Linked DNA regions of Homo sapiens. The protein of the gene in region 2 purifies or fractionates together with the protein of the main gene of each other region. This does not show direct contact. Each region holds a gene or a part of one and is shown on either strand. Other genes may lie near its edges.

Region 1 (5,946 bases), on a different chromosome or scaffold from region 2:
TTAGCTATATTATTTTAAAATGTTGTGTATGTGAGCCAAAACAGTACCTTTGCTTTCTAATTTTAAAAGAGATACATGTTCAGATGGGCACAGTGGCTCACACCTATAATCCCAGCACTTTGGGAGGCCAAGGCAGGTGGATCCCTTGAGGTCAGGAGTTCAAGACCAGCCTGGGCAATATGGCAAAACCCTGTCTCTACTAAAAATACAAATATTAGCCGGGTGTGGTGGCATGCACCTGTATTCCCAGCTACTTGGGAGGCTGAGGCAGGAGAATTGCTTAAACTCAGGAGGTGGAGGTTGTAGTGAGCCAAGATCGCGCCACTGCACTCCAGCCTGGGAGACAGAGTGAGACTCCATCTCAAAGAAAAAAAAAAAAAAAAAGAGACACATGTTCATTATCAGAAAAAATCAAAAGATCTAAAGAACAAAAAGAATATGCAGAACATCAATCGTGTAGCTGACTGTTGATACTTTACTGTGTATTTTTCCAGAACCTTTACTCATTTTCTCTATGTTTCGCTTTTTCAAAAAAATATGGGGGAACTAATGGTTATATAATATTTGATTGCATAGATATGCCATCATTTATTTAAGTATACCCTATTGCTATTGGCTCAAGTCATTTCCAGTTTTTTATTTCTTTTTATCTTTTCCGCCCAGCTTTTTCTTATTACAATACAACTAAAATGAACATGGCAGATTATTTACTTAGGACAAACTTATAGGGGTAGAAATGTTGGTGAAAAGGCAAATACATTTTTAGGCTTTTGATACCTACTGTGAAACTACACTAAAGAAAGATTATAGGAGTGTATAGGTTACCAGCAGTGTAGGAGTGGTCACTGGCACACCTGCAGAAACACTAAACATTTCATATACATATATAAACTTAGTCCTATCTACTTGCTCTTGCTGCATTCCACCTTCCTATTCTGCCCCCACCCCTGACATCCCACCCAAATTCTACCCTCACTTGTGATCTAGGTGGTCCAGTTCTAGCTTCTTACTTCTGTAAACACTTCTCTGCCTAAAAATAACTTTTCTTCTTTTAGATATATCAGTATTGCTAATTAGCAGCTATCATTTGTCTGCTTGTTCTTGTTGTCTGTGATCTTTGTTTCCCAAGCTAAAAGGCAAACTGTGGCTATGACAATGAATTACACATATTGGCATTTTCTGTAGTGCCCATTCTATTACAGTGTCTCAGTAGACAGGCAATGTGTATTTCTTGGTAGACTTTTATGTTTCTTAATTCAGACTCAGTCAGTTATGGAAGCTTACTGGATCTCCTTTGATATGGAATAAATGAGCACAAATCCTTGGGCTATGCTGCTGCCTTAGATATGGAGAAAGTATTTTATTATACTTGGGAAATATTTAAGTTACTACTACTTTAGAATACTAACTATAAGCCATTTTAAAACTGTACGCAATACATAAAATCATATTTTTGCACATGAAAAAATGTGATTAAATGACAGCAGCAGACATTAGGAGACAGATACTGGTTTCTTTATTTCACATGTGACTTTCAGCCAGTCAACAGGGATTCACATCCCATATTAGTTAAATGTGACTATGAAAATTTTATAAAGTACTACAAAAAAGCTGTTATATACCTATTGATTTCTTTTTTAAAAGTGGCAGTACACAGTAAGACATTTTAAAAGAGCTATCTTATATTTTAAAATTTAAGTCATCTCTATAAATAACAATTGACCTAGGCATTTATGCCCCAAAATAAAATCCATTCCATTTTTTAACTTAAAATAAGCGAATAAAAGTTAAGATGGTCAAACTAGGCTTCATAAATTACTCAGCTTCAATTGGCCACAGCAAATTTACAGCAGATCTAAGAAACAGCTTCAATTTTATCCATAAGTACTTGCATATTTTCATCTCATTCTATGATATAAAAACACTAAATGGCCAAAATCTCAAGTGAGAAAAGAAAGCAAAGCTCACCTTCACTGCTGGCAGCATGTCCAGGGAGTCCAGTGTGAACAGCACTAATGCTTGCATCAGCATCATAAATTGATTAAATTGCCATGTCAGACTAAAGAGAAAAGTTGATATGAAAATGGCAAGAAGTGTCAGCCTCTGTAAAAAGAAAACCTTTGTATAATTTACATGTCTCTAGTAATAAAAAACCTTGCAGACAAGTTTTCTCAAGAGCAGCCAGTATCTCTATAAACCAAACAGAAAAACCATAAACTGTTGCTCTGAAAACCCTTGCATTTGTTATTTAAGCTCTAACTATCATAAAGTGACACTTTGCATATAAATATTCACATACGGTGTGTGTATTCCACACTATTATGGAGGCGATAATGCACCAAATCACATCTCAAGAGCAAGGGCTTAAAAATTCTGACAGTTTGCAGAAATTGTGTGTGGGTTTGCTGCAACTATTTAAGGGTAGATTATGTAGAGTACATTTTTAACATCAAAAATGAAAACATTTTCTTTGCAAAGTAGAAAAAAGCTCACGAAAAGAAAACTTAATTTAACTCAAGTTTAAAAATTGGTCATGGAATAAGAACTATTCACATGCATTGGGATACTAAGCACATCACATTTTTTGAAGCTTCATATATAAAATTGGGGGATTAAAATATATGAAATTTTATAAACACTTACTTCAGAAAGAGGCTGTAAGTTTGGTCTCAGGAAATATGTAATTGCTGCTATCTGAATTGCAAAGAATGGCAGCGCCCAGTTCTCCCTCAGTGGGATGGTAAACTCAACTCTTGTGGTATCTATTCTGCACAAAAGAAAACACAAATGGCCAAAGTGATAGTTTTTACAATAATTTCCTCGAAGACTTCCTCAACGAAAGATATATTACATTAAGGACAAGTATACTTAAGATTCTGGCCACTGGTTCTCAATAATTGTCCTTATCATCATCATCATCATCATCATCATCATCCCTGTAACATAAAATTGGCATAGAGAACATTTAAGTGCTCTGTCCATGGGTATGCCCTTAGCACCTAGGGTTCAAGCCCAGGTTAGCCTTACTCCTAAACTCACAAATGTATCATGCCAAACCCTTACTTTCATTTCTCCCTCACTTTATTAGTGTCAAGAGGCAATACACATTTTCCCTCTCTCTGTATTTCTTTGGTGTTTTTTATACTTGAGTCTTAAATATGTCATTGACAGTATTTTTTAAAAAAACTTCCTGCCTCTCTAGAATGTGAATCCCAACAGGGCAAGTATGGGTAAAATTTTTCATCTTTGTACACCATCCCCACACATACTAGGCATTCAATAAATGATACACTTATGTAACACATAATATACGTGTGTGTATCTACATCTCAAACAAGGTACCTATATCTACATATATCTCTCTATAAAAGATAGAGATATATATGAAACAATGTATCAAACAATGTATCTATATCTACATATATCTCTATATAAAAGAAATATATATAGATGTCTGTAATATCTGTATCTATATACAAAATGTAACCTTTAAAGCCTCAATTTTATCATTTCTAAAATGGGGATAATAATAATATCTACTCTATAGGGTTCTTCTAAGAACCCATATAACACATATTGTAAAGTGCTTGGCATACAGTAAACCCCCAACAGGACTGTCATAACACGTAATTTGCTTAGACTTACAAAATAAAACCTGTATTAGAACTCATGTTCAAGTTTTAAGACTCCTATTGAATACTGGTATTGCCATTATAGGACAGGCAATAATTTAATGATCTTGAATACATTTTTTTAAAATGTGATTTCATAAGGCTCTACTGCTTATAATAGTAGATATTAAATAAGGCAAAAACGCCCTTGCATTTTATCTTTAAGCTCTACTAACTGAGAGCCATACACAACCCTATTAAGGTTGATAGTGAAGATATAATTAAAACTTTTTAGGCAAGGCACAGTAGCTCATGCCTGTAATCTTGATACTTTGGGAGGCCAAGGTGGGAGGACTGCTTGAAGCCAGGAGTTCAAGACCAGCCTGGGCAACATAGGGAGATCCTGTCTCTACAAAAAACAAAAACAACCCCTAAATAAATAAAAATTTTAAAAGTCTTCATTGGCTTTAAAAAACAGCAAGAAAAAAACCCAAAAAACTTTTTAATGACTGATACGTTAATTACCTTGATCTGATCACTATACATTCTATATGTATTGAAATATCACTATGTAGCCCATGAATATGTATAATTATTATTTGCCAATTTAAAAAAACCCTTTAAGAGATGAGATATGCGGCTGGAGAAATCTTGATCACCCAGCAAACAGATAATAGGTTTGGGATTATTATGAATGATTTTCTTGATATGCAATTCAATGCTCTCTGTTCCTCAGCTGGAATTACATGTAAGTAGCACTTTCTCCCTAACTAAATAAGAAAAATTGAGTAAACCACCAGGCAAACCAAAGAGAAACTGCTCCCAACCAAACAAATGTGGCAGAAGAAATTTCTCTGAGCTGGAAATGAAGTGACTTCATTTTTACTTACATTTTGGAAAAAAAAGAAGCATACTGACTCCAACTCACCTATTTGTGACATACCAGAAAGCTGCCAACAGTCCTGACAGCCATGTACCACTGAGTAGCCAGCTGGTTATGTAGAGAGCTGTGACATAGATCGCCTGGAGCCCAAATAAGGTGTAAATATAAAAATAAACTGGCTCTAAATATTTCTGTAAAAGGGAACAATAAAACATGTTTGTCAGGTGAGCCCTAACCCTCCTCAGTGCCATTTAAAACATGACAGTAGGAATACAATATGCAGGAGCTTGCCTCTAATTCCAAGCAGCAAGCCCACACCCCTTTCATCTATTAGAGAAGCGTTCGGGTAGCCTTTCTTCCCACCACCGAGAAGAGACAGGGGAAGGAAGTCCGTGACAGGTCTGGCTTCACTCTTTACTCTAGAAAGTTTTATACCTAACTTTGTCTGATGATACGTCATTCACATGAGAAGTGGTCATTGTGATTTGCTGACTTTACAAATTTTTTCTCTCAAAGATCCATCAGGAGTGAATGTGTAATCACTCCTGATTACAGAGAGCAAATGAAAATATTTATTAGCTTCTAGACCGCATACATACATAAGCCAGGAAGCATCTGTGTACAAAAACCTTATATCCTATGTAAATAAAAAGCAGTATCTTATAAAGTTCATAATATACATGGAAAAAAAATATAGTATTGCTGATTTTCTACTAAACCAGTTGAAGATCAGAAAGAACGATGTGATAACTTTCAGTTCAAAATGGCAGACTTTGACTTTCATCTGATATTAATAATTCAATATCACAAAACATACCTGTATGGGTAGAACTCTATATAAAATACTGAGAAAAACCTCTTGGTAAATATTCATTCGCTGAAGGAGGTTAATTGTCTTCATAGATTCAGTTTTATTATCATATATTAGGCCATGAAAACCTATAGATATGTGAAAAGTCAGGAAGAAAATAATTACACTCATAATTATTCATTCATTCAAAACTATGCACAGATTGTTTAGTAAGTGCTAGAGACTGTGGTAGGCATTGGGGATATAAGAGTAAGCAAAAAAAACATACTCCTGCCCTCAAAGAGCTTACCACATATTCGATGGACATCATTTAAACATTTACACAAACATAGGTAAATTAAAACTTTTGTAACTGGAATGAAACCACCACCACCACCACCACAAGGTCCTTCTCTAGAAATGTGGGCAAGAGGATTTCACATTTCTCCACCCTGCCCTCCTGCCATGCAACCTGCAGTATCTCCTTTGGGAGAGTATACATGGCCTTCCTTCTCCACTCCCCAGAACGGCTTTGGCCATGTGCTCTAACCAGTGGCATGTAAGTGGATGTAAGCCATAGCTGAGCAGAGGCTTTAGAAGACAAGGCATGTTTCTACCAGCTCTTGCTCTTGCCCTCTGCCATGACACTGGCACATTCCAAA
Region 2 (6,520 bases):
AGCCTGGTCAGTTATTTGTGACACGCCACCCAAGTCCCTAGAATAGCAATCTGCATTCTCTCAACATGACTCCTTAAACTAACACCTTTGCCATAGACAGCTTTAACACAAATCATGAAGACTCATGGAACGATGTCAGAGCTGGACAGAACCATAAAGATGACTTAGGCTCTCTCAGCTCTCTTTTTTCATTTTATTTATTTATTTTTGAGACAGGGTCTCGCTTTGTCACCCAGGTTGGAGTGCAGTGGCGCGATCTCAGCTCACTGCAACTCTTGCCTCCTGGGCTCAGGAGATCCTCCCACCTCAGCCTCCAGAGTAGCTGAGACTACGGGGGGCGCACCATCACGCTCAGCTAATTTTTGTATTTTTTGGGGGGTAGAGATGGGTTTTCGCCATGTTGCTCAGGCTGGTCTTGAACTCCTGGGCTCAAGCAATTCTCCCACCTTGGCCTCCCAAAGTGCTGGGATTACAGGTGTGAGCCACCACGCAGGCCCCTCTTTTTAAATGTGAGGAAATCATCCGAGGTGAGTCACACATGCATTAATGACCCACTGGGACCAGAACTCCAAGGCCTAGACTCTAAGCTCTGCTTTTTCATTGTGGCACTAATTTGTTTTCACATGTTTTTGATGACTCTGCCAGGCTTTGTACGGGAGCTGAGGATATGATTTTGGCTCTGAAATAACTCATCCTCTAGGGTGTTCTTGTTAGGGGAAGATTTGGCAAACATGCTAAAAATAATTACAATACAAAGCAGTAAGTACTAAAATAGAAAGTATTCATGCCAAGTGAGCAGAAACAATGCCAATTTAGTTAATTTTATTATCACTGTCATCTCCATGTAGGAGGAGGGACTGGCGAGAGGCCTCATCTGTCTACAACAGTCATTCTCCACTACGGGCAGTGGGGATAGGGTGTCCCACAGGAAGCATGTGGAGTGTCTGGGCCTCGTGAGGCGGCAAGTGCTACAGGCGCCTAGTGGGTAGAGGCCAGGAATGCTGCTAAACGTTCTATGAAGCATAAGACAACAGCCCCTACCACAAAGAATTATATGCCCCAAAATGACGAGGGTGCCGAGGCTGAGAAGAGCCAGTCTAAAGGATGCATTCTCAATAGGGGCAATAACTAGATCTTGTGAGGGACCAAAAAGTCTTAAGATATTACAATGGTTTGTGACATTCCAAAGGGCTATAATACATAGACAGTGTATCTATGGTATTAAAATGTCATGGGGAGGTCGGGCGTGGTGGCTGACACCTGTAAGCCCAGTACTTTGGGAGGCCAAGGCAGATGGATCACTTGAGGTCAGGAGTTTGAGACCAGCCTGGTCAACATGACGAAACCCCATCTCTACTAAAAAAATACAAAAATTAGCTGGGCGTGGTGGCAGGCATCTGTAATCCCAGCTACTCTTGAGGCTGAGGCAGGAGAATCGCTTGAACTTGGAAGGTGGAGGATGCAGTGAGCCGAGATTGAGCAAGACTCCATGCCAAAAAAAAAAAAAAAAATTCAGCCGGGCATGGTGGCTCACGCCTGTAATCCCAGCACTTTGGGAGGCTGAGGTGGGCAGGTCACCTGAGGTCGGGAGTTCAAGACCAGCCTGACCAACATGCAGAAACCCCATCTCTACTAAAAATACAAAATTAGCTGGGTGTGGTGGCGCATGCCTGTAATCCTAGCTACTCGGGAGGCAGAGGCAGGAGAATCGCTTGAACCCAGGAGGCGGAGGTTGTGGTGAGCCAAGATCACGCCATTGCACTCCAGTCTGGGCAACAAGAGCAAAACTCCGTCTCCGGGAAAAAAAATAGCCGGGCGTGGCGGCTCACACCTGTAATCCCAGCACTTAGGGAGGCCTAGGCAGGTGGATCATAAGGTCAGGAGTTCGAGACCAGCCAGTTCGAGACCAGCCTGGCCAACATGGTGAAACCCTGTCTTGACTAAAAATACAAAAATTAGCCGGGCGTGGTGGCGTGAGCCTGTGATCCCAGCTACTGGGGAGGCTAAGGCAGGAGAATTGCTTGAACCCGAGAGGCGGAGGTTGCAGTGAGCCAAGATTGTGCCACCGCATTCCAGCCTGGGTGACAGAGTGAGACTCCATCTCAGGAAAAAAAAAAAAAAAAAAAAAAAAAAAAAAAAAAAAATTCATGGGGAGTGGGGACAGGAAAAAAACCTAAAAGACTCCTTAAGGGGGCAGAAAAAAAGGTAGCAAAACTGGTCTACAGACACATCCTCAAGTGCAGCCAGTCTCCCCATTCCTTCCCACGGCCTTTGGAGGGTTTCAGCAGTCTGGACAAGTTCTGGCTCTCACTCTCTCACTCACTCACTCACAATCTCCCACACCCTGCATGCCTATATGGACCCTCAGTGTCGTCATCTCAAAAATGGGAAGAATGGCTGGGTGCAGTGGCTCACACCTGTAATCCCAGCACTTTGGGAGGCCGAGGCAGGTGGATCATGAGGTCAGGAGCTCAAGACCGGCCTGGCCAAGATGGTGAAACCCTGTCTCTACTAAAAATACAAAAATTAGCCAGGCGCGGTGGCAGGCGCCTGTTATCCCAGCTACTTGGGAGGCTGAGGCAGGAGAATAGCTTGAACTCGGGTGGCAGAAGTTGCAGTGAGCCAAGATCGTGCCACTGCACTCCAGCCTGGGCAACACAATGAGGCTCTGTCTCAAAAAAAAAAAAAAAAAAAAAGGAAGAAGAAGAATGGCTGGGCACCATGGCTCATGCCTGTAATACTGGCACTATGGGAGGCTGAGGCAGGAGGATTGCTTGAGGTCAGAAGTTCAAGACCAGCCTGGGACACACAGTGAGACCCCCCCATCTCTACAAAATAAAAAATAAAAAAAATTAGCCAGGTGTGGTGGTGCATGCCTGCGCTCCCAGGTACCCAGGAGGCTGAGGCTGGAGGATCGATTGAGTCCGGGAGGTTGAGGCTACAGTGAGCTATCATCACACCACCGCACTCCAGCCTGGGTGACAGAGAGAGATCCTGTCCCAAAAATAAAATAAAAGAGAGGGAGAAAGAAAAAGTAGGAAGGAAGGAGGGAGGGAGGGAGGGAGGGAGGGAGGGAGGGAAGGAAGGAAGGAAGGAAGGAAGGAAGGAAGGAAGGAAGGAAGGAAGGAAGGAAGGAAGGAAAAACGGCAAGATGGGAAGAGCTATTCGGGCCTCCTACAGCTTAGTACATGGAAGGACCCAGGACCCAAGACCTAAGACCACCTGCCACATAGGACTGCTCCTGCATACCCTAATACAAGTCTGGCTGTCTTTGTCCCCATGGGAATGAACGTCCGCTGCATTCCAGGGGGCAATAAGCTGGACTGTAGACCCCTCAGTGACTGGAAGACACAGGGTTTGACAGACCATGGCTTCTCTCCATGGCCAACACCACTCTTCCATCTCATTCCTGTTTTATACCCCAATGCCCACCCACAGGCCACGAGGACAGAGCCAGTCTCAGGCTGGCCACCCCTGCCGGCGGCTGGAGAGCCCCACTGTGCCTCCGCTTGTCTCATGGAAGGGGCTCACCTGACCGTTTGAACCTCAGCGGCCCTGGCCCGCCACTCCGCAAAGCGCCAGATTCCTCGCACCGGCGGGACTCCTCTCCGAGCTAGCGCGCACCTGGAAAGGGGGCTGCAGGCGAGGTCCGCTCAGGGCGAGGAAGCCCGGCCACCGTGGAGTGTCGGCCACCTCACTCCGCACAGAAGTCAAACTTGTCACCCGGCTGGTCCGCGGCAGCCCGGCTCGCGGTCACGCGCGAGGAGTGGAAGCCCCGAAGTCCGGCGCACCTGGGCAACGCCCGGTGTCCGGGAGCTTCCGGCCGGCCCCGGCCCCTCTCTCCATCGGGGGGTCGCTGCCTGTGTGTGTCCCGGTCCCGCTCCCCGCACGGCTGGAGCCGGCGGGCTGGGGAGGTGGGACCGACAGCGCGCTCCGCAGCCCGGTGCCGCCGCCACTCACCTCTGCGAGCCTCGTGAGGCTCCCAGGCCGTGGTCCGCGGAGCCGCGGCTTCTTCACGGGGAGCCCTAGCGCCGCCTCCAGCAGCGCCGCCAGCAGCAGCACGCAGAGGAGGAGCCCGGCTCGGTCGCGGAGCGCACGCATCGTCTCGGTTCCGAGGCTGCTCTGCCTGCACCTCTGCACGCGGCCGCGAACCCAGTCGCGCCCCGCCTCGCCTCCTCCGGGGGCGGGACCCGGCGATCCTGAGGGGCGCGCGGGGCACGGGGCCGCGCGGGGCGGGGGCGCGCAGCTCGCACAGCCTCTCTGGCCCCGGCTCCTCGCGTGGGCGCCCGCACAGCTCTAGGGTCCGCGCACCTGGACGTCCCCCACCCTCCTCCGAGGGGCCCCTCGGCGCTCCCCGACCCGTCTTGACCCTGTGGGCGGCTCTCTTTGATCTGGCCGCCTCCCCGCCCTCAGTCCCCGCCGCTGTCGCCGTCGCAGCCCCCAGCGAATTCCTGTTCGCGGGAAGCTGCGGCCCGGCGCGCTCCGGCCCTGCGCTGCGACTCCTGCGGGGCCCTGAGGGTCCGACGCCACCTCTGCCCTCCCCGACCGCGCTCCAACTGCGACCTGGACCGGCGGTGCCGCGCGGGCGAGGGAGGCGCAGCCCGACGGGAGAGTGGCGCGAGTCTTCGGATGCCGGGCAGATGTTTGGTTATGCCTCGAGGAAGGTTTGCTGGGGAGGAAGCCTAGAAGTAACTCCCCCAGGGCTCTTCCCAGTCTACTGCCGGAGGTGGAGACCAGAGCAGAGGCACAAGCCAGCACCTGCCATTCTGCACCCAGTGTCCTCGGAATGTTCTCAGAGCACTTTTAAAAACCGGAGAGTCGGCCGGTGGCTCACGCCTGTAATCCCAGCAGTTTGGGAGGCCGAGGCAGGAAGATCACTTGAGGTCAGGAGTTGAGACCAGCCTGGCCAACAAGGTGAAACCCCGTCTCTACTAAAAATACAAAAATTAGCCGGGCGTGGCAGCGCGCACCCGTAGTCCCAGCGGGTGGGAGCCCCGAGGTCCGGCGCACCTGGCCCACACACAGGTGGGAGAATCGCTTGCACCTGGGAGGCAGAGGCTGCAGTGAGCCGAGATTGCACTATTGCACTCCAACCTAGGCGACAGAGTGCGACCCTGTCTCAGAAAACAAAACAGGAGAAAGTTGAGACTCAGATGTGAGGATAAAGTCCCAGAAGGACAGCCGGGAGTCTGGTCGTCGCCTAGTTGTATCCTGGGTGAAACAGTGAAACTGCCCACTTCATCCAGTGGGACCCTTGGTGCAGGGATCCTCACGTAGGCCACGAGGGTCACCAAGATGGCCTGCCTCTGAGCAACCGACACAAAACCTTAGCTTGTGGCAAAGATCAGGAACTCTTGAGAGGCAGTGCCAATCTGGATGGGGCAGCTTGGGAATGTGAACGCAGTGACACCAGGTAGGGGGAGGGGTTGGGACAGGTCGGTGAGGAGCAGTCACAAGGCACTGGGGACATGCCCACCCAGGGGTCATAGCAGGGCGCACAAAGGATGACTCAAGTTTCAGGGCAGGGTTGGTGGATCCCCAGGGGTGGTAGAGAGGATGAAGAGCAAGCCCAGCTACTGGTGTAAACTGCTGGGTCTGGGTCAAGTTAGAGTAAGACTGTGGGGGGACTGTGTGCTTTTCTGGAACTACTCCTATTCCCAGGGGCACAGCTGCAGGGTTTTGAATGGTGCATCACAGGGATGACAACCTGGGTCTGGATTCGGCCATGGGGACTGGAATCTTTCACCATTTACCAAGTAGGTGATATTATTGGACAAATTATTTGACGTCTTCGTGCTCTTGTCATCTGTAAAAGTGTGGGGGCCCGGGAGCAGGAGAGGTTACCCCTCTCACCTGGGCACCAAGTGTGAGAAGTGTGAGTAAATGAGAAGTAAATGTGAAGTAAATGTGAGTAAATGAGAAGTAAATGTGAGTAAATGAGAAGCCAGGTTTCCATGTTGAGAATTTGTATTAGAATGAACTATATGAAGTTGCCATGTTTTGTTCAAAAGGTCGAATATTGGCAATTTCATATGGTGCAACCTAATAGGGTGCCTGGTACATGGTAAACACTCAAATGTTAGCCTAAAGAAACCCTGTTTATGAGCACCTGCTAGACCATATTGCATTTACTAGACTAAAGGCAAGGCCACCTTGTTCTTTTTCAGGAATTTTTTTTTTTTTTGGTATAAATATTTTTACATCCTGCCTATTATTTTGTCTTTTTACCACACTCCTGCACCTTCCACCAGATGAAAGGAGACTTGGAAGACAATGAGTTCATTCATTCATGAGCACCTGTCTCCATGAAGAGCATCACCACTGGACTCCAAGCCACGCCCCCAACTATAAATAGCCTAATTGGTCCTGCTGCACCCACTCTTGTTTTTACCCTCCCCCACTCCCCATGAAGCTGATTATCTTTTCTTTTTTTCTTTAAGATGGAGTCTCGCTCTGTCGCCCCGGGCTGGAGTGCAGTGGCGTGATCTCGGCTCACTGCAACCTCCGCCTCCCAGGTTCA
Region 3 (5,946 bases), on a different chromosome or scaffold from region 2:
CATCCACATCTGCAGGACATATACGTCAATGGCTTAGAAGAAAATCCAAGAAACGACAATGAAGCAAGCACTCTTAATCCCTAAAAACCAAATCATGGTGGGATAGGAATGGATGGTGAATTGAGGAGTTAGGCAAAATTCCCAGAAGAGTCAAAGGCTGGCTACCTCGACTTCATTGCCAAGCTGTCTTCAAAGTCCAGAACCAATGGCTCTTAGTATTTTTATGGATTTTTTTCCTTAGGAAATGCTACATCACCAGCGCTTTTGGTGGCACAGTGGATGACTCTGTTTGAAGAAAATAGGCACTAACATCTGAGTCAAAAAGTGACTCAGAGTGCTTGGACTCTGAAAAACTTTTAGAACACTTTGCTCAATGTATTTCACTTGTATTTTCCTTTGTATCTATCTATGCCCGAGAGTGATATATGGAAAAATTGATGTCTCGGTCTGAAAGAGCTCTTTCAATAAGTAGAAAATAAGAATGCCAACTGATAAGAACCCGTTGTGTCACAGGTCAATGGACAGTGTTTTTTCTTTCCTAGTGGTCCACAAAATAATGGCATGTTTGACAAATAATGGCCTCTCGGAATTGATGAAAAAGTTGTATTCCAGACACAGGGGAAATTAGTGATGATCAAAAGTGAGACAGGAAGACAACTAAGTGAGCTCCCTGGCACAGGGGATGGGGCAGGACAAGGGCAGGAGGGGAAGGAGAGTGCGGCAGGGCAGGCCTTTTGAAGGTCACAGAGCAAAAGCTCAACATCTAGGTCAAGGGGAAAGCCCCAGAGGCAGCAAGGAGGAAACAATGAGACTGGGAGGCATCCCACACTGGGCCAACCCTCTCATCATCCAGGACAGCCATACAAATGCCCCTACCCAACAGTCATCTACACTTACCCAAATACTGATAACAGAGTACTTAATTCATGGGCATCTCCAAAACACAGGCCTTTAATTTGCACCGGCTCCTCAAGCTCTCACAGGGCAATTTAGCTAAGAAAGACCCTTCATTTGAAGTGCGTCATTTTTCTAGGGCAGCAGCCTGTCAGAAAGAAAAGAGTTCACTCCCTGGACTGGTCTCTGACGCAGAGAGGAAGAAACCTTGATGGCCACTCTTGAATGTGAAGGCCTCTCAAATTACCTGTTCTTTTTCCCGCCATGTAAATGCTCCAGTTGTTTTATCCAGAAGTACACTGGACGCACGGTGCCTAACCATCCCAATGGTTTTATGGGATTGGTACCTACCAATCCGATAAAATATCTAATGACCCTTCATAAATGAGAATGGCCTCTATGAAAAGCACCTGCATGCCCTCACCTTGAGAACCAGGACCAGCCACAACTTCCCACAGTTCCGCCTCCCTGAGATTGGCCATGAAGTCACATCTCCATTTTACTGTCCCCAAGTACAATACTATCTATCACAGAAGCTCAGTGTTACCCACATTGCCAAGAATAACCCCCCTCTCCAAAGCCTGGGTATCAGGCAGGCATCTGATCTCTGGTTTCCTGCAAATATGAATCAACAAACCCCACTCCCACCCGCAGCAACTCCCAAAGATCACATCACAGCGGAAATCCTGTGCTGGAAAAGGTGCACAGGGACCCAGGGGGATTTCTCGTTAAACAGCAATATGTGCAGAAAGCACTTTAAGAATGTGTACTGTTCTTCAATGGTGCACCTAACAATGAATGACTTACCCGATGCTTGGTGCTTCACAGAAGTCAGCTCAGGAATCAAGAAATGAGATTGTTCCACAAGCATATCCCACGAAGCTGATCAGCAAATTAAACTGCTGGAGCAGTCTAAATTAAAACTGCCTCGAGCAGCTGCAGGTCTGTAGTAAGGGAAGCGATTATGAGAGTACACACAACCTTTTAACCAGGATGCATTCATGCCTCATCGAGGAGACCAGAACAAGAACAGGTGACCAAGATGTCTACAGCATGGAGGGAAACTCCACCACTAGCCAACCAAAGGCAACATCCTTCGGGAAAGAAAACTGGCTCATTTGTTTAGCAAAAGAAACCAAGGAGTAGAGAGATCACCGAAAAAGAGGCTGGACGAAGATGAAACCAGGGGCTACCTCTGAAGCAGAGGGAACCACAATGGCTCCCTCTTAGTCTCAGCTCCAATCCTGCCTTCCCCATGAGCCTACGTGATCACCACTTTAATACTGCAACTATCCTTCCGCCCTCATCCCTAATCCCCATACACTGCTCTATTTTTTCCACAGCACACAGCACCTTTCTGCACACGACGTAACTGACTTCATGTCTACTGTCTGGCTCCCCGCAGCCCCCCACTAGAATGAAAGCTCCAAGACCACAAGGATTCCGTGTCTGCTACAACAACTGGTGTACTCCCAAACACTCAAGCAGTGCCTGGCACATAGGAGGGTCTCAAGAGATACTCACTGAAAGAATAAATGAAAAGAACCAGAGCCAGTTTTCATCTCTGCTCCTTCCGGAGGGGCAGCTGAGGATTGCGGCCTTCAGGACAGGCAGAGGCCTGGAGGGTAGGAACACAAATTCCATGGAGCAAAAGGTAAAAATGAAGAAAAGAGCAGCCGGGCACGGTGGCTCACGCCTGTAATCCCAGCACTTTGGGAGGCCGAGGTGGGTGGATCACTTGAGGTCAGGAGTTTGAGACCAGCCTGGGTGGTGAAACCCTGTCTCTATTAAAAATACAAAAATCAGCTGGGCATGGTGGTAGGTGCCTGTAATCCTAGCCACTCAGGAGGCTGAGGCACAAGAATCGCTTGAACCCGGGAGGCGGAGGTTGCAGTGAGCCGAGATTGTGCCACTGCACTCCAGCCTGGGCGACAGAGTGAGACTTTGTCTCAAAAAAAAAAAAAAAAAAAAAAGCAAAACAGACCAGCACTACTATCAAAGCATTATCAAGTGTGCATCTGCTCCAAGATGCCTTCCAGGAACTTTCCAAATGAGGCCGCAGTATGAGGGCACTGCCAATGCAAGGAAGGGGCATGGGAGGCCCAGGGAGCAGGAGCAAGCCAGGTTCACTGCTGGCTGGCAGAAACCCTCGGCCAGGAGTTGCAGAAAAACCCCACTGCCTCCAGAGGCCCTGAGGAGATCTCTTCCACCAGACAACCCTGGGTCTGCCACCTGTGAGCTCTGTGACCTTGGGAAAGTCACTTAACCTTTCTGTGCTTCAGTTTCATCAGTACACTAGAAGAAATAAAAGGGCTGAGATGAAATGCAGCCCTTTTATTTCTATGCACAGTGAGTGCCATGAAAGTGTTTATTAAATTTTGAAAATTAAAACGTATTAATATATTAGCCCTCCCCACAGTGGTTCACCCCAGACCACACAGAAAGGCAGTCTCATTACAAGAAGGTCTAACCATAATGGCTCAGACAGAAGGAATGAAATCAAAATTAACGGACTAAGGCAGTGGTTCTCTACCAAGGGCAATTCTGCCCACCTCCCACCCTCGCCAGGACACTTGGCAATGTCTGCACATTTTTGGTTGTTACAACTTGGAAGATCAGGGGTGGGAGAACTACTGGCATCTAGTGGGGAGAGGCTGGGGAAGCTGCTACACATCATACAATGCAGAGGACAGCCTTGCACAACAAAGAATGATCCAGCCCAGTGCAGTCGCTCACACCTGGAATCCCAATGCTTTGGGAGGCCAAGGCAGGAGGACCGCTTGAGCCCAGCCTGGGCAACATAGTGAAACCCTGTCCCTACAAAAAATTTAAAAATTAGCCTGCTGTGGTGACACATGCCTATAGTCTTAGCTACTCGGTAGGGTGAGGTGAAAGGATCACCTGAGCCCAGGAGTTTGAGGCTACAGTTAGCTCTGGTTGTACCACTGAGCTCTAACCTGGGTGGCAGAGTACAACTGTCTTAAAAAAAAAAAAAAGCCAGCCAAAAATGTCAATGGTGCCAGAGTTAAGAAACTGAACCAGAGCAACCACAGTCCCGAAAGTACCCTTGTCCCTGCCCAAATGCATGTCCTGACCTGAACTCTGGAAATTCAGTAACTCTACCCCCAACCCTCCTGGCCATTCCTCTTCCCTAAGAGTTAGGGACAGAAAACTGCCAGCCATGGGCAGGAGGAGGTGGTCAGCAGAGTGGCCTAGGAGAGACTCTCTGTTCCATGGGGAGCTCCTGGAAGGCTGCGGCAGAAGGGACAGTTGACCAGGGCAAGCAGCCAGCAAGGGCAGGCTGAGCCATGAGGGATCGGCCCATTTCCCAGCCCCCAGGCAGCCAGCCCTTAACTGCTTCTTTGTGACAGCCCGCCTCAGTGAGACAAGGGGCTCATATAACTCCCATAGCCTGGGAAAGCTTTTTAAATGTAAGCCTATGAGTGAGACTCTATGTGACAGTTTTTGTTTATCTCCAAATCCGGCCCTGATGAATCACTGTCATCTACATTTCAGCATGCTAAGAAACCTAATCCATATAAAACACCCCATGCTTCTGGGGCCCATACTAGTAGACATGACTAAGTGCAAAAATGCCAGTGTTTCACCCTGTGCTGCAGGAGGCAAGAGCCAGGCAGGAGCACAGTGCCACCTGCTTAGAGCAGGGAACCCTAGAAAGGTGGGGGCCCATCAGGGAAGATGGATTAGTGTCTTGAGCCCCTTTTATTTCCATGGTTTACAATAGAGAAAGGTGGGAGAGGCTTTCTGGACTGGGCAGGTAATCTGAAGACAGCTTTCCTGCCAACTCCATACTGGGTTCATCATGAAGATCAAGCACAGGGCCAAGGTAAAGGAATCTTCACACTGTTAAGAGAACAAGGTCAAGTTCCACTCTAAGGACAGGAGTGATCACTGGTGAGCACACATCAATGAATTCAATGTAATTCTCCATAGAGGAGAGTTCCCCGCCAGGCCCAGCCTATCCCAGACCCATTCAGGGGGGTTTGCATATGGAAGTACCAAGACATCCCTCCTCCTTAAAAACACCTCACCCATAAGGCAGTCTAGAGGCAAGGCCACAAGATTACAATGGTGGAACCAGAACTCTCAACAGTAACAGTGAATCAAGACTTACTCAGAGGGAAAAGGGATTGTTCCCATCATGGAAGTGGGGCTAGGCCTCCTTCTATCCAAGTGGCACATTTGCAGGGGTGACAATCAGCATGTTCACTATGGCACAGGCACAGAAGTGGGTCCAAGAGGCCCCTCAAGTGTCAGGATTCAACCCTTTGATTGCTGAACATGGGAAAGAGATCCCAAGGAAAGACCAGGGCAGCTAGGAACCGGAGGGCACTCAGGGGGTCTCAAGGCAGAGCATATTTAACAACCAGCATGGAAGTGCCCCACTGTTACATGTGAGTGGCATGGCTAAGCCAGTGTGTTTCCATCTGGATATCCACTGACTTGTACGGCTCAGCATCACCCATGCAGAGCTTCCAGAAGAGGCTTCACAAGGACAAAAGCACAAAAACCAACAGGGAGCATAGACTTGGCCAGGTTTGTGTGTTTTCTCATCACGTGAATTCTGCTGGGCACTCCAGGAGACTTCACAGGCTTTTCCCAGGAATACCTAGCTTCCCTTCCTGGGATCTCAGCCAGAGCCTCACAGTCGACTCCTGCTTACACCTGTGTCTCTGTCCCAGGCAGCCTCACCGCACCCCCCGCCACCCCCGCCCCACCACACCTGCTTTCACTAAGCCCACTGCCTCTGGACTTGCTAGAAGTTAGGCAGGACAGTGGCCTTGCCTGCTTTGACACTAAAATCAGTATCTTCCCAAACTGACTTCCCTCTCCCCAAAGCCCTAAGAAACATGAGCAGTAGCAAGAAGAAATTATGTCTTCCCCAACCCAATCTCCCCCACCCCCTCTCCCATCATTTTTCTGACCACCTCTTCCTCTGTTCCAAACAGGAGACCAACCACTCACCCATCATTCATCCAAACAGGAGCTAGGGTGGGGAAACTGACAGCGGGTCTGAAGACTCATAAAACC
Region 4 (5,946 bases), on a different chromosome or scaffold from region 2:
CTGGGGCCCATGGTGGCCAGGCTGGGCTTACCCGCATAGTAGGCCAAGCGGCGGGCTTGGCGGTCAAAGCAGAACCATCGCTTCCTCCAGGTCTTGATGCGGCCGCCCATCTTCACCAGGGGTCCACGGCAGCAGCACCCAGACACCTGCACATGTGGGCAGTTTTCCGGGTTGTGGCCCCATCCCTCCAGATGCTGCCGGAGATCCAAGATTCGCGGGCCTGGAGGGTGGGGTGGGGTGGGTGGGGCCTGGGGAGCAAAGAGACGGGGCAGCTGATGTAAGGGGCGGGGGATTCTACAGCCTGGAGCCCCTCGAGGGGAGCAAGTCATAGCAGCTTGCATGTAAGGCCCGCTACAGCCTTTAGAGGGTAATATTAACTAGGACCATCTGACAAATGCAACGGCTACGTGGATTGACTGTGATGCTCTGCCCAGGACTTTATGGACATCAGCTCCTTGGCACTTCATGGCAACTGTGAGCCCCATTTTACAAATGAGCAAAATGAGGTACAGAGAGATGACATAATGCACCCGAGGTCACACAGAGCTTCTAGGCAGCAGAACTGGGACACGAACCCAGGTATTTCTGACCCTAGAGCTCACCCTGAAACATCAGAGGCCTATCAAAAGAAATAAAGATCGGGCCGGGTGTGGTGGCTTATGCCTGTAATCTCAGAACTTTGGGAGGCTGAGGTAGGAGGATCCCTTAGGCCTAAGAATTCAAGGGCAGCCTGGGCAACATAGTGAGATCCTGTCTCTGAAAAAAAAAAATTTTTTTTGGAAAAAAGAAATGAAGATTGGAGCCTGTGTGGTGGCTTAAGCCTGTAATTCCAGCTACTCAGGAGGCTGCGGTGGGAGGATCCCTTGATCCCAGAAGTTGGAAACCAGCCTGGGCAACACAGAAGACCCCTTCTCTATTTAAAAAAAAAAAAAAAAAAAAAAAAAAAAGGAGAGAGAGAAGAGAAGCTATGTGCAGTGGCTCATGCCTGTAATCTCAGCACTTTGGGAAGCTGAAGTGGGAGGATCACTTGAGGCTATGAGTTGGAGACCAGCCTGGGCAATATAGTGAGACCCCATCTCTACTAAAAATCCAAAAAATTAGCTGGGCCTAGTGCTGCACACCTGTAGTTCCAGCTACTAAGGAGGCTGAGCCCAGGAGGATCACTTGAGCCCAGGAGATCGAAATTGCATTGAGCTATGATTGCACCACTGCACTCCAGCCTGGGTGATTGAGTGAGACCCTGTCTCAAAAATAAAAAAGAAAGAGAGAGCTTGTTTACATTATTATTGTTGTGATGAAATTAATGAATATAATCCTCTGCTAAGTACTTTCTAGGTATAATCTCTGCCCCCTCAAACTCTCCTGAAGGGGTAAGTACATTTATCTCCGTTTCACAGATGTGGAAACCAAGACTCAGAGAGGTTAAGTCACTCGGCACAAGTCACACAGCCAGAGCTGACAGAGCCAGGACTCACCAGGTAGAGTGGTCACCTCAGATGGTCATACAGGTTGGGGAGGAGGATTTAAGGCAATACAAGTGTCCACTATTTATGAGAGCCTGACCATGAGCTGGTCTGATCCAACCTATTCTTCCCAAATAATCCCTGCAAACAGTGGTATGATTCCGGAGGTCAAACTGAGGTTCAGGGTAGTACATCTCAGATTTCTTCATGCAAGCAGATCCGCTGGGGATTTTGTTAAAATGTTAAAATGCAGACTCTGATTCAGTCATTTCAGGGTGGAGTCTGGAGTAGGGGGAGAGGTTCTGCATGTCTGACAAGCTCCCAGGTGGGCCCTGATGCTGCTGTTCCACCAGCCACACTTTGAGTGTCAAGGAGTTAGAAAACTGAAGCAGGATGGGTGCGGTGGCTCACACGTGTAATCCCAGCACTTTGGGAGGCCAAGAGGGGAGGATCACTTAAACCCAGGAGTTTGAGACCAGCCTGGGGCAACATGGCGAAACCCCGTCTCTACAAAAAATACAAAAATTAGGCTGGGCGTGGTGGCTCACGCCTACAATCCCAGCACTTTGGGAAGCCAAGGTGGGGGGATCACCTGAGGTTGGGAGTTTGAGACCAGCCTGACCAACATGGAGAAACCCTGTCTCTGCTGAAAATACAAAATTAGCCAGGCGTGGTGGCGCATGCCTGTAATCCCAGCTACTCAGGAGGCTGAGGCAGGAGAATCGCTTGAACTCGGGAGGTGGAGGTTGCGGTGAATCAAGATGGCACCATTGCACTCCAGCCTTGGCAACAAGAGCGAAACTCCATCTCAAAAAAAAAATACAAAAATACAAACATTAGCCAGGCATGGTGGTGTGTGCCTAGGATCCCGGCTAATTAGGAGGCTGAGGTGGGAGGATCGCTTGAGCCCAGGAGGTGGGGGTTGCAGTGAGCCGAGATCACACCACGGCACTCCAGGCTGGGTGACAAAGGGAGACCATGTCTCAAAAAAAAAAAAAGAAAGAAAAGAAAGAAAACTGAAGCAAGGCCAGAGCAAGAAGGGATGAGAAACAGAGATGAGATCTGCTGGTTGGAGACAGGAGAGTGAGGTGGGGAAATGAGAAGGATTAGGGAGGAGGGAAAGGAAGGGAGGGAAAGGCCAGGTTTAAAGAGTACCCGCTGGGCCTGCAATCTCCCCAAATCCACACAGAAAGACCAAGGATCACCACTGTGTGTGGAAGCTCCCGCTCTGTGTCAGGCACTATGCCAAGTGGTCACTGTGATTACCTCGTTTCTTCTCCAAAAGAACCCATTAATGTTCCTGCTAGACAGATCAAGAAACTGAGGCTTTAAGAAGAGGTGACTCTCCAAGGTCACCAAACTAGGATGTAGGGGAGCTGGGCCCCAATCTAGGAGGAGACCAGGGATGGGCTTGGGACTCCACCACTGCCCGGCTGTGTCACCTCCACAGAACTCCTGCCCCTCTGGGAGCCTCAGTTCCCTATGCTAAAACACCAGGGTTATCACAGCACTCTCCTCTGGGGCTGTTTCAAGGATGAGCTGGCTGCCCTCAGGGTCTCTCACCTAGAGGTTCCTCTTCTAGGTGTGAAGCCCAGGGACACACTTGCTCACGTGCACAAAAGATAGCAGGGGTGTACGGCAGGGGACAAAGCACACAGCAGGGGACTGTTTAATAAATGATGATGCTAGAAGCCAGGCAGAACACCAGAGCAGGAGCAATTCTGTTTGTTTGTTTGTTTGTTTGTTTTGAGACAGAGTCTCGCTCTGTCACCCAGGCTGGAGAGCAGTGGTGTGATCTTGGCTCATTGCAACCTCTGCTTCCCAGTTCAAGCGATTCTCCTGCCTCAGCCTCTCGGGTAGCTGTGACTATAGGCACATGCCACCACGCCCAGATGATTTTTGTATTTTCAGTAGAGACGGGGTTTCTCCATGTTGGTCAGGCTGGTCTCGAACTCCTGACCTCAGGTGATCTGCCCACCTCAGCCTCCCAAAATGCTGGGATTACAGGCGTGAGCCACCACGCCTGGCCTGTGCTTCGTTTTTAATGAGCACAAGCTTATGCCTAACAATGCAGAAGACCCCACTGCCGTTCCTGCCTTATTTTGCTCCCTGGCTCTTATCAGCCTCTGACATGCTATTTATTTTACATATTGATGTTGCTTTGTGTCCATCTTCCCCCTTAAAACATCAGCTTCCCCCAAAGGTGGGGATTGTTATCTTGGTCACTGCTATGACCCAGGGTCTAGCACACAGTAGGCACTCAATAAATATGGGCTGAAATGAATAAGGGAAGGACAAATGGTGGTAAAAACAAAAAGGTTGGGAAGGATGTGCTTATTTATGAGACAAATTCACAAAATATGGCTTGACTGGTGCATGTGGAAAAGTATAAACACAGATTTGAAGGCTTCTCAGCAGTAGAAGTGAGATCAGGAAGAAAGTGACCACTTTCTTAATACTTTATCTATCATTCTTTTTTTTTTTTGAGGCAGGGTCTCACTCTGTCACTGAAGCTGGAGTGCAGTGGGGCGATTATAGCTCACTGCAGCCTCCACCCACTGGGCTCAAGCAATCCTCCCACCTTAGCCTTTTCCCGAGTAGCTGGGACCAAAGGCATGCACCACCACACCTGCTAATTTTTTAAATTTCTGTAGAGATGAGGGTCTGACTATGTTGCCCAGGCTGTTCTCCAGCTCCGGGACTCAAGTGATCCTCCCACCTCGGCCTCTCAAAGTGCTGAGATTATAGGCGTGAGCTATGGTGCCTAGCTTTATCATTCTTTATAACAAAACGCATTGATTCTATGAATGTTATTAGTATAGGCAAAAATGTAATTTATGTAAGGGAGTTGTCAGCTAAATCAAGAATGTGAAAAAGTCAACAGGATAAATTATTTGATTATTTCCACAAATAAATAGCATTTTCTTTAATGGGGAGGCAGAACTGTTAGAGATTAAAAGATTTAAGAGACATTAAACCAAATGCATAGCGTGTGCTTTGCATATAGATTCAAATAAATCAACTGTGAAAAGATATTTTAGGTCAGGCATGATGGTTCAGGCCTATAATCTCAGCACTTTGGCCAGAAGGGAGGCTCGAGGCCAGGAATTCAATACCAGCCTGGCCAACATAGTGTCTCTACTGTTAAAAATGGAAAACAAGGCCAGGCACGGTAGCTCATGCCTGTAATGCCAGCACTTTGGGAGGCCAAAGCGGGTGGATCACCTGAGGTCAGGAGTTCAAAACCAGCCTGGCCAACATGGTGAAACCCCGTCTCTACTATAAATACAAAATTAGCCAGGCATGGTGGTGGGCGCCTGTAATCCTAGCTACTCCAGAGGCTGAGGCGGGAGAATCGCTTGAACCCTGGAGGCGGAGATTGCAGTGAGCCGAGATTGTAATACTGCACTCCAGCTTGGGCAACAAAGTGAGACTCCATCTTGGAAAAAAAAAAAAAAAAGGAAAAGAAAAATAATAAATAAATTTTTAAAAACATATTTTGGAGACAATGAGAGAAATGTGAATATGGACTATATATTACAATATAATGAAATTAATAATCTCATAAGATGTGACAATGGAATTTTTGTTATGTTAAAAAAAAAAAAAAACTTATTGGCCAGGCACAGTGGCTTACACTTTTAATCCCAGCACTTTTTGAGGCCAAGGCACACAGATCACCTGAGGTCAGGAGTTCAAGACCAGCCCGGACAGCATGGCAAAACCCCATCGCTACTAAAAACAAACAAAAAAAATAAATGGGTGTGGTGGTGGGCACCTGTACTCCCAGCTACTCGGGAGGCTGAGGTAGAAGAATCGCTTGAACCAGGGAGGCAGAGGTTCCAGTGAGCTGAGATCACATCACTGCACTCTAGCCTGGGCGACAAGAGTAAAACTCTGTCCCCCAAAAAACAAGCCTATCTATTGGAGATACACAGTGATGTTTGAGTGAAAGGATACAATATTTTGCTTTAAAATATTTCAGTGCAGAGTGGGATGTAGGTATGGGATTAGTAAAATAAAATTGGTGGCTGGGCACCAATGCCCTAGAATTATTCTTATAATTCTAGCAGCTTGGAGGCTGACATGGGAGGATTGTTTGAGGCCAGGAGTTTGAGATCAGCCTGGACAACATAGCAAGACTCTATCTCTACAAAAATAAAATACATTAAAAATATAGGAGTGCAGAAGACTTATGAGAAAAAAAGAAAAATATTAAAAATAAAAATAAAATATATATACCTAGTACATACACAAATTAAAATGTTAAATAAAATAAATAAAAAGTTGGCAAGTACAAGATTCAATATTGAAAATGATTAAAGCTGCGCAGTGGGCACCTGGGGGTCTATTAATCTACTCCTTCTCTCATGCATATGCTTGAATATTTCTATCGTAAAAAGGTTTTTTGTTTTTTTTTTTGAGACAGAATCTTGGTCTGTCACCAAGACTGGAGTGCAGTGGTGTGATCTTGGCTCACTGC
Region 5 (5,946 bases), on a different chromosome or scaffold from region 2:
TATCAGTATGTTTTAATTTTGTGTTTCAGAGTAGATGAACCAACAGAATAGGAAAGAAATATTTGCAAGTGATATATCTGATAAAAAACTTGAATATAGAATTTTTTTTTTAAAAAAACCTCTTACAACTCAGTAATGAAAAGACACCCCAATTAGTAAATGGACAAAGGGTCCTAATAGACATTTTGCTTATGAAAATATACAAATAGTCAATAAGCACATGAAAAGATGTTCAACATCATTAGTCATGAGGAAAAGTCAAATCAAATCCACAATGAAATCCTGACTCACGCTGGGCACGGTGGCTCACGCTTGTAATCCCAACACTCTGGGAAGCTGAGGCAGGTGGATCACCTGAGATCAGGAGTTCAAGACCAGCCTGGCCAACATGGTGAAACCCCGTCTCTACTGGAAAAAAAAAAAAATACAAAAATTAGCCAGGCATGGTGGCACACGCCTGTAATCATAGCTACTCAGGAGGCTGAGGCAGGAGAATCGCTTGAGCCCAGGAGGCGGAGGTTGCAGTGAGCCGAGATTGCATCACTGCACTCCAGCCTGGGCGACAAGAACGAAACTCGGTCTCGAAAAAAAAAAAAGAAGAAGAAGAAGGAAAGAAATACTGCCTCATACCCACTAGGATGGCTATAAACAAAAAGATAAAAACAACTGCTGCTGAGAATGCAAAAAAAATTGGAATTCTCATAATACTGGTACATGCTACAACATAAATGAACTTTGAAAACATAGTAAGTTAAAGAAGCCAATCATAAAAGGTCACATCCTGAATTAAGTCATTTACATAAAATGTACAGATGGGGTAAATCTATAGAGACAGAAAATAGATGAATGGTTGCCTAGGGTTTGATTGGTTGGGGAGGAGGCAGGGAGAATGGAAAGGGATTTATTTGTACAGGATTTCTTTCAGGGGGAGATGAAAATATTCCAAAACTAAATTATAGTGATGGGTGCACAGCTAACAACCAATCAACAATATACTTTAAATTGGTCCACTTTTGGTCTGTGAACTCTCAATAAAATGTTAAAAAGAAAAGAAGTAGGCCAGGTGCAGTGGCTCACCCCTGTAATCCCAGCACTTTGGGAGGCCAAGGCAGGTGGGTCACCTGAGTCCAGAAGTTCAAGACCAGCCTGGGCAACATGATGAAACCCTGTCTCTACAAAAAAATACAAAAATTAGCTGTGCATGGTAGCACACCCCTGTGGTCCCAGCTACTCGGGAGGCTGAGGTAGGAGGATCACTTGAGCCTGGGAGGTTGAGGCTGCAGTGAGCCGTGATTGTGCCACTGTACTCCAGCCTTGGCAATACAGCGAGACTCTGTCAAAAAAAAAAAAAAAGAAAAAAGAAAGGGAGAAAAGAAGTAGATACAGAAGCCAAGGCCCTTGGTCCCTAAAGTTTCACAATTTCACTGAAAAATCACTGAAATGAGGCAGATTGATTAAAAGCAGAAAAGGCATACAAGTTTACTTAAAGTATATATATGGGAGCCTTCAGAATTAAGACCCAAAGGAGGAATTGCCTATTTTATGCTTAGGTTCAACAAAGTATGGACAGCCCAGCTGTGCAGAAATATGATTGGCCAAAAAGAATATATTCTAAAGCTGACAGACTGAGTGGGGAAACCTAGCAAGGCCTGTCTGCCTATTAAATAGATTCTTCTAGGCCTCTCTGAGCCTGTATTCCTTCCTTCTGACTGTGGGGCAGGGCCCTCTCTGGAATGGGGGTCTTAAGACCTACAGTCAAACAAGGTAGGTTAGATCATTTCTTTGTGTCCAGTTTTTACACAGAAAGGCAGAGGGGAAATTAGAGTAATATTTTTAGGTCTTATGGCTGGCTTTCAGGAAAAGGGGTTCTGGCTTCTGTGATCCTCCTTGGGGAAGAGGGATTCTAGTTTCTACGGCTAGCCTTGGAGGAGAATGGGACAGAGAGACAGGAGGGCAGGACAAAGTCAGTGCAAAACTTCTGCTTCTGAGGCTGCTGCTGAGGCCTTCATTTGGGGGTATTGTTTTCTGAGCCCCAACATAGGTAAGGATGGATCTGAAAAAAGATAATCCATATGTAAAAACAGGAACATGGAACTCCACCTCGTGCTATACATAAAAATCGATTCCATATGAATTAAGAACTTTAATACCAAAAACAAAACTAAAACTCTTAGTAAAAAATGTAGATGAATATATTTTACATATTCTTAAACAGGACACAGAAATCATTGACTACAAAATTCAAGATTGATACATTTGGCTGTATTAAAATTTACAAATTTGTCCATCAAAACACCCCTCAAAGAGCAAAAAGGCAAGTTATAAACAAGATATTCAAAATATACAAAACAAATGATTAGTATAAGGAGTATTTTTTTAAACCCATAGAATTCTATTTTTTAAAAAAGGACAACCAACCAACAGAAAATGGGCAAAATAAATGAAAAGCTATTTCACAGTACAGGAAAGACATATGACCAACAGACATCTGAAGAAAGGTTAACATCATTCGTGATCAGGGGAATGTAAATCAAGAAAGACTTCATCGAAATACCTTTTTAAACACACTTGGTCAAAATTTTTAAATTTGACAGTACTGTTTTGGAGGGCACATAGATTCATAGGATCTCCTATACATGTCAATGGAAACAGAAATGATAAATCGGTTTGAACACTGACATACTATACAACCCAGCAATTCCATTTTCAAGTATATACACAAGAGAAATCCTTGCACAAGTACAAGAGACATGTATAATAATGATAGTAGTGCTATTCCCAAGAGAAAAAGGAGGAGGGGGGAATGAAAATGGCTATCAGTGAGAAAGTGAATAAAGATGGTATATTCACATGATGCAAGATAACACAGCCATCCAAAAGAATGAACCACAGTTTTACATAACAATTTGGATGAATCTTAGCAATTTAATTTTAACTAATAAAATATAAAAATTACCACAGTTAAATAAAACATAGTGTATGTATTACTTTTTTTAATGTTCAAAACAAGGAATAAGGAAATAAGATTTTGAAACGTACGGCTTGAAAACTGGCTACTGGCTTGAAGGTGTTTTAGTAACATTGTTTTAGTAACACATGACAATCAGATTTGCATATTAGAAAGAATGGTTTAGCTACAGTGTGGAGGACTAACTAATTTAAGTTGAAGAAAACTTGAGACAGAGAGATCATTTAGAAAACTACTGACAGGTCCAGTTAAAGGTAAGGAATAGAGGAGAATCTGAACAATGACATTGAGAATAGAAAGGAATGAAACTGATCTGAAAGCTATTCAAAGAGTTATGACCAACAGGCCTTAGTCCCTCACTAGATATAGAGGCTGAGGGAAAGGGAAGAGTGGAGAATAACTCCCAAGTTTTAGATCTGGGTGACAAGGGGGCCTAGGGTGAATAACGAGAGTTCATTATTTGACATATTGAGTTTGAGGAGACTCTGAGATATCAGCATTCATGTAGTTTCCTCCATCTAAGAATAACTATAAAATCTGATGCCTCCTCTCTAAAGGCCAATCCTCCAACTTCTTTATAAAGCCCCCCTCTGCTGTTCAAACGACCAAATCAAATGTTATCCCTCCCTCTTTGAACCTATGCTGCACTTTCCATTTATCTTACTCTAACCCAGGGTTTCTCAACCTTGGCACCATGGACATTTTAGACAAGTTAAGTCTTTGTTGTATGGGGCTGTCCTTTTCAATGTAGGATGCTTGGCAGCATCCCTTGCCTCTACCCACTAGATGTCAGTAGCAACCCCCAAATTGTGATAATCAAAAATGTCTTCAGCCAGGTGTGGTGCTGCAGGACTATAGTCCAAGCTACTCAGCAGGCTGAGACAGGAGGATCACTTGAGCCCCCGAGTTAGAGCCTGTGAACAGCCACTATATTCCAGCCCAGGCAACATAGCCAGGGCAACATAGCAAGGCCTTGTCTCTTAAAAAAAAAAAAAAAAGTCTCCAGATACTGTCAAATATCCTCTGGAGGCAACCTCTCCAACCCTACCCTTCCCCACAATGAGAACTACTGATCTAGGATATAATAGGTATATGAGTTCTTATTTTAAACCATTATGAAATCATTAACTCACTGAAAGCAGCAACTTTACAACCTTTACAAAATATCTATATGACAAATCCATTCTTACATACTCATTAAGGTAGTTTAAGGACACAGTCATCTATGTTTAATTTACTATTTCTAATTCACAAAAACCTTTAAATGTAATTATTTCCCATTGACATAGACATCCCCAACCAAGTAGCTCAAAATACTAAGGATTTACGTATTGCAATTATTTTTTTAAGAAGTGAAAAACTCTAGACTATACATACTAGATTCTCTTAGGAACATAATCATTAACAAAAAGCCATTTCTGAGTGAAATCCAAATTCACAAATGTTCTAGAATCAGTTCATCTCCATATGGTTCAAAGAAAAGTTTATGTCACAGTTATCTTATACCTGTCTCTTGTCACCTTGAATCTCTAATATTCTACTGAGACAAGTAATTAATCTAAAAATAAAGTGACAACATTCTCTGTCACAAATTAGAAAAGACTACACAGAATCAAGTGTTCCTGAAAAGGAAAGAACTTACTTTCCTATTTGGAAAAAACTTTTCCTCAAAGAATTTGATATAAAAAATACATTAGAAAATATCTACTGTTGAATTATCCATTACAGTCCATTGACAGGTATTCTGTTAATGGAATGCTATCTATTTACATGAAACAAGAGAAATGTAAAGATTAAACATTACAGTTTGACCTTTAGCAGATTGAGTGCACTAGCTGAAAGTGAGAGTAAACATAAACTTACATTGTTATTAAATTGGCTTATACAGTTTTCTTTAATTACATTAAATGGTTCCCTGGCGTGTAAGGTATTTTTTTTTCTGTAAATGAGAAGCAGACAACCCTTTCTGAAACTTTCCAGATAACTGATTATAAGAGTATTACAATGTTTTAAGAAGCACCCAAATACACTCAAAGTGTAGAGAAAAAAAGAAAACTAAAATATTTCCCTTTCTAGGTCATGATGATCACTAGCCTCTGCAGAATGGGGAGGTGTGTATCATGCAGTTAAGGCATCTCACAGAGTGGGCTGCTAGGCTGGGCTGGGAGAACAAGATGCCTCTTTTGCAAAGTTTCACTGTGTGCCTAGGAACTTAAACAAATGGCACCTCCCAGCAAATCAATTTTGTAAGTCTTCAATTATCTTTATTTGTAGTAAGTGTCCCTAGCATTACTTCTTATGTTCTCAGTGAGGTTCTGGATCTTGTCTACCTTCATGCCAAATAAATGCTTCAGAATTTATATCACAAATAATCTAAATTGAAATATTAAATTTAAACCTTAAGCAAAAGTATTCCACTAACCCCAATTTTAAAACATCCCAATCAACCACTTCTGTTCTTATACCTGTCATGCAACAAATACCTAACCTAACTTTTCAGGAAGCTTTCTCAAACTAAATTAATCCCCTCTAAAATTAAGCCTTATGCCACAGTTCCAGATCTCTTATGTGTACAGTATATTAAAATATATTATTTTGAATACTATTATATATTATAGTGAAATTCTTTTCTAATGGTTATATTACTGTATACATTTGACTATTGTATAAATCCTTTAAGTACAAAAACCATGTCTCTTTTTATTAGCCATAATCATGTTTCCAAAGTAGGAGTTCAATAAATGCTTGCTTAATGAATCTATTCTAAAACCATAAGAGAGGCATGATAGCTATGCAAATACACACAAAACAAAACACACCATACCACAAACAAAAAGTATATAACCTACGAAGTTAAATAAGCATTGAATTTTCAGAATAAATAACCTATTTATTGGCATGGTGTTTAATAACTGCTTTTTTATAAAGAGAGAATGTGTTACACTGGAAATAACATTAGGATAGCACTGGAGTTGAAA

The links.
Region 1: the proteins of ISM2 (region 2) and DPY19L3 purify together in Homo sapiens (affinity purification with mass spectrometry; one large-scale study listed by BioGRID and IntAct). This does not show direct contact.
Region 3: the proteins of ISM2 (region 2) and GALNT2 purify together in Homo sapiens (affinity purification with mass spectrometry; one large-scale study listed by BioGRID and IntAct). This does not show direct contact.
Region 4: the proteins of ISM2 (region 2) and PHLDB3 purify together in Homo sapiens (affinity purification with mass spectrometry; one large-scale study listed by BioGRID and IntAct). This does not show direct contact.
Region 5: the proteins of ISM2 (region 2) and LRCH2 purify together in Homo sapiens (affinity purification with mass spectrometry; one large-scale study listed by BioGRID and IntAct). This does not show direct contact.

What each region holds. Positions count from the first base shown.
Region 1 is NC_000019.10:32,435,933-32,441,878, reverse strand, and holds part of DPY19L3 (protein C-mannosyl-transferase DPY19L3), read right to left. Parts: intron 5,434-5,946; coding exon 5,312-5,433; intron 4,686-5,311; coding exon 4,540-4,685; intron 2,768-4,539; coding exon 2,644-2,767; intron 2,104-2,643; coding exon 1,969-2,103; intron 1-1,968. UniProt on the Homo sapiens protein: C-mannosyltransferase that mediates C-mannosylation of tryptophan residues on target proteins.
Region 2 is NC_000014.9:77,494,693-77,501,212, forward strand, and holds the start of ISM2 (isthmin-2 isoform 1 precursor), read right to left. Parts: upstream 4,125-6,520; 5' UTR 4,102-4,124; coding exon 3,961-4,101; intron 1-3,960.
Region 3 is NC_000001.11:230,072,043-230,077,988, reverse strand, and holds part of GALNT2 (polypeptide N-acetylgalactosaminyltransferase 2 precursor), read right to left. Parts: intron 1-5,946. UniProt on the Homo sapiens protein: Catalyzes the initial reaction in O-linked oligosaccharide biosynthesis, the transfer of an N-acetyl-D-galactosamine residue to a serine or threonine residue on the protein receptor.
Region 4 is NC_000019.10:43,479,346-43,485,291, forward strand, and holds part of PHLDB3 (pleckstrin homology-like domain family B member 3), read right to left. Parts: intron 249-5,946; coding exon 32-248; intron 1-31.
Region 5 is NC_000023.11:115,223,344-115,229,289, forward strand, and holds part of LRCH2 (leucine-rich repeat and calponin homology domain-containing protein 2), read right to left. Parts: intron 1-5,946. UniProt on the Homo sapiens protein: May play a role in the organization of the cytoskeleton.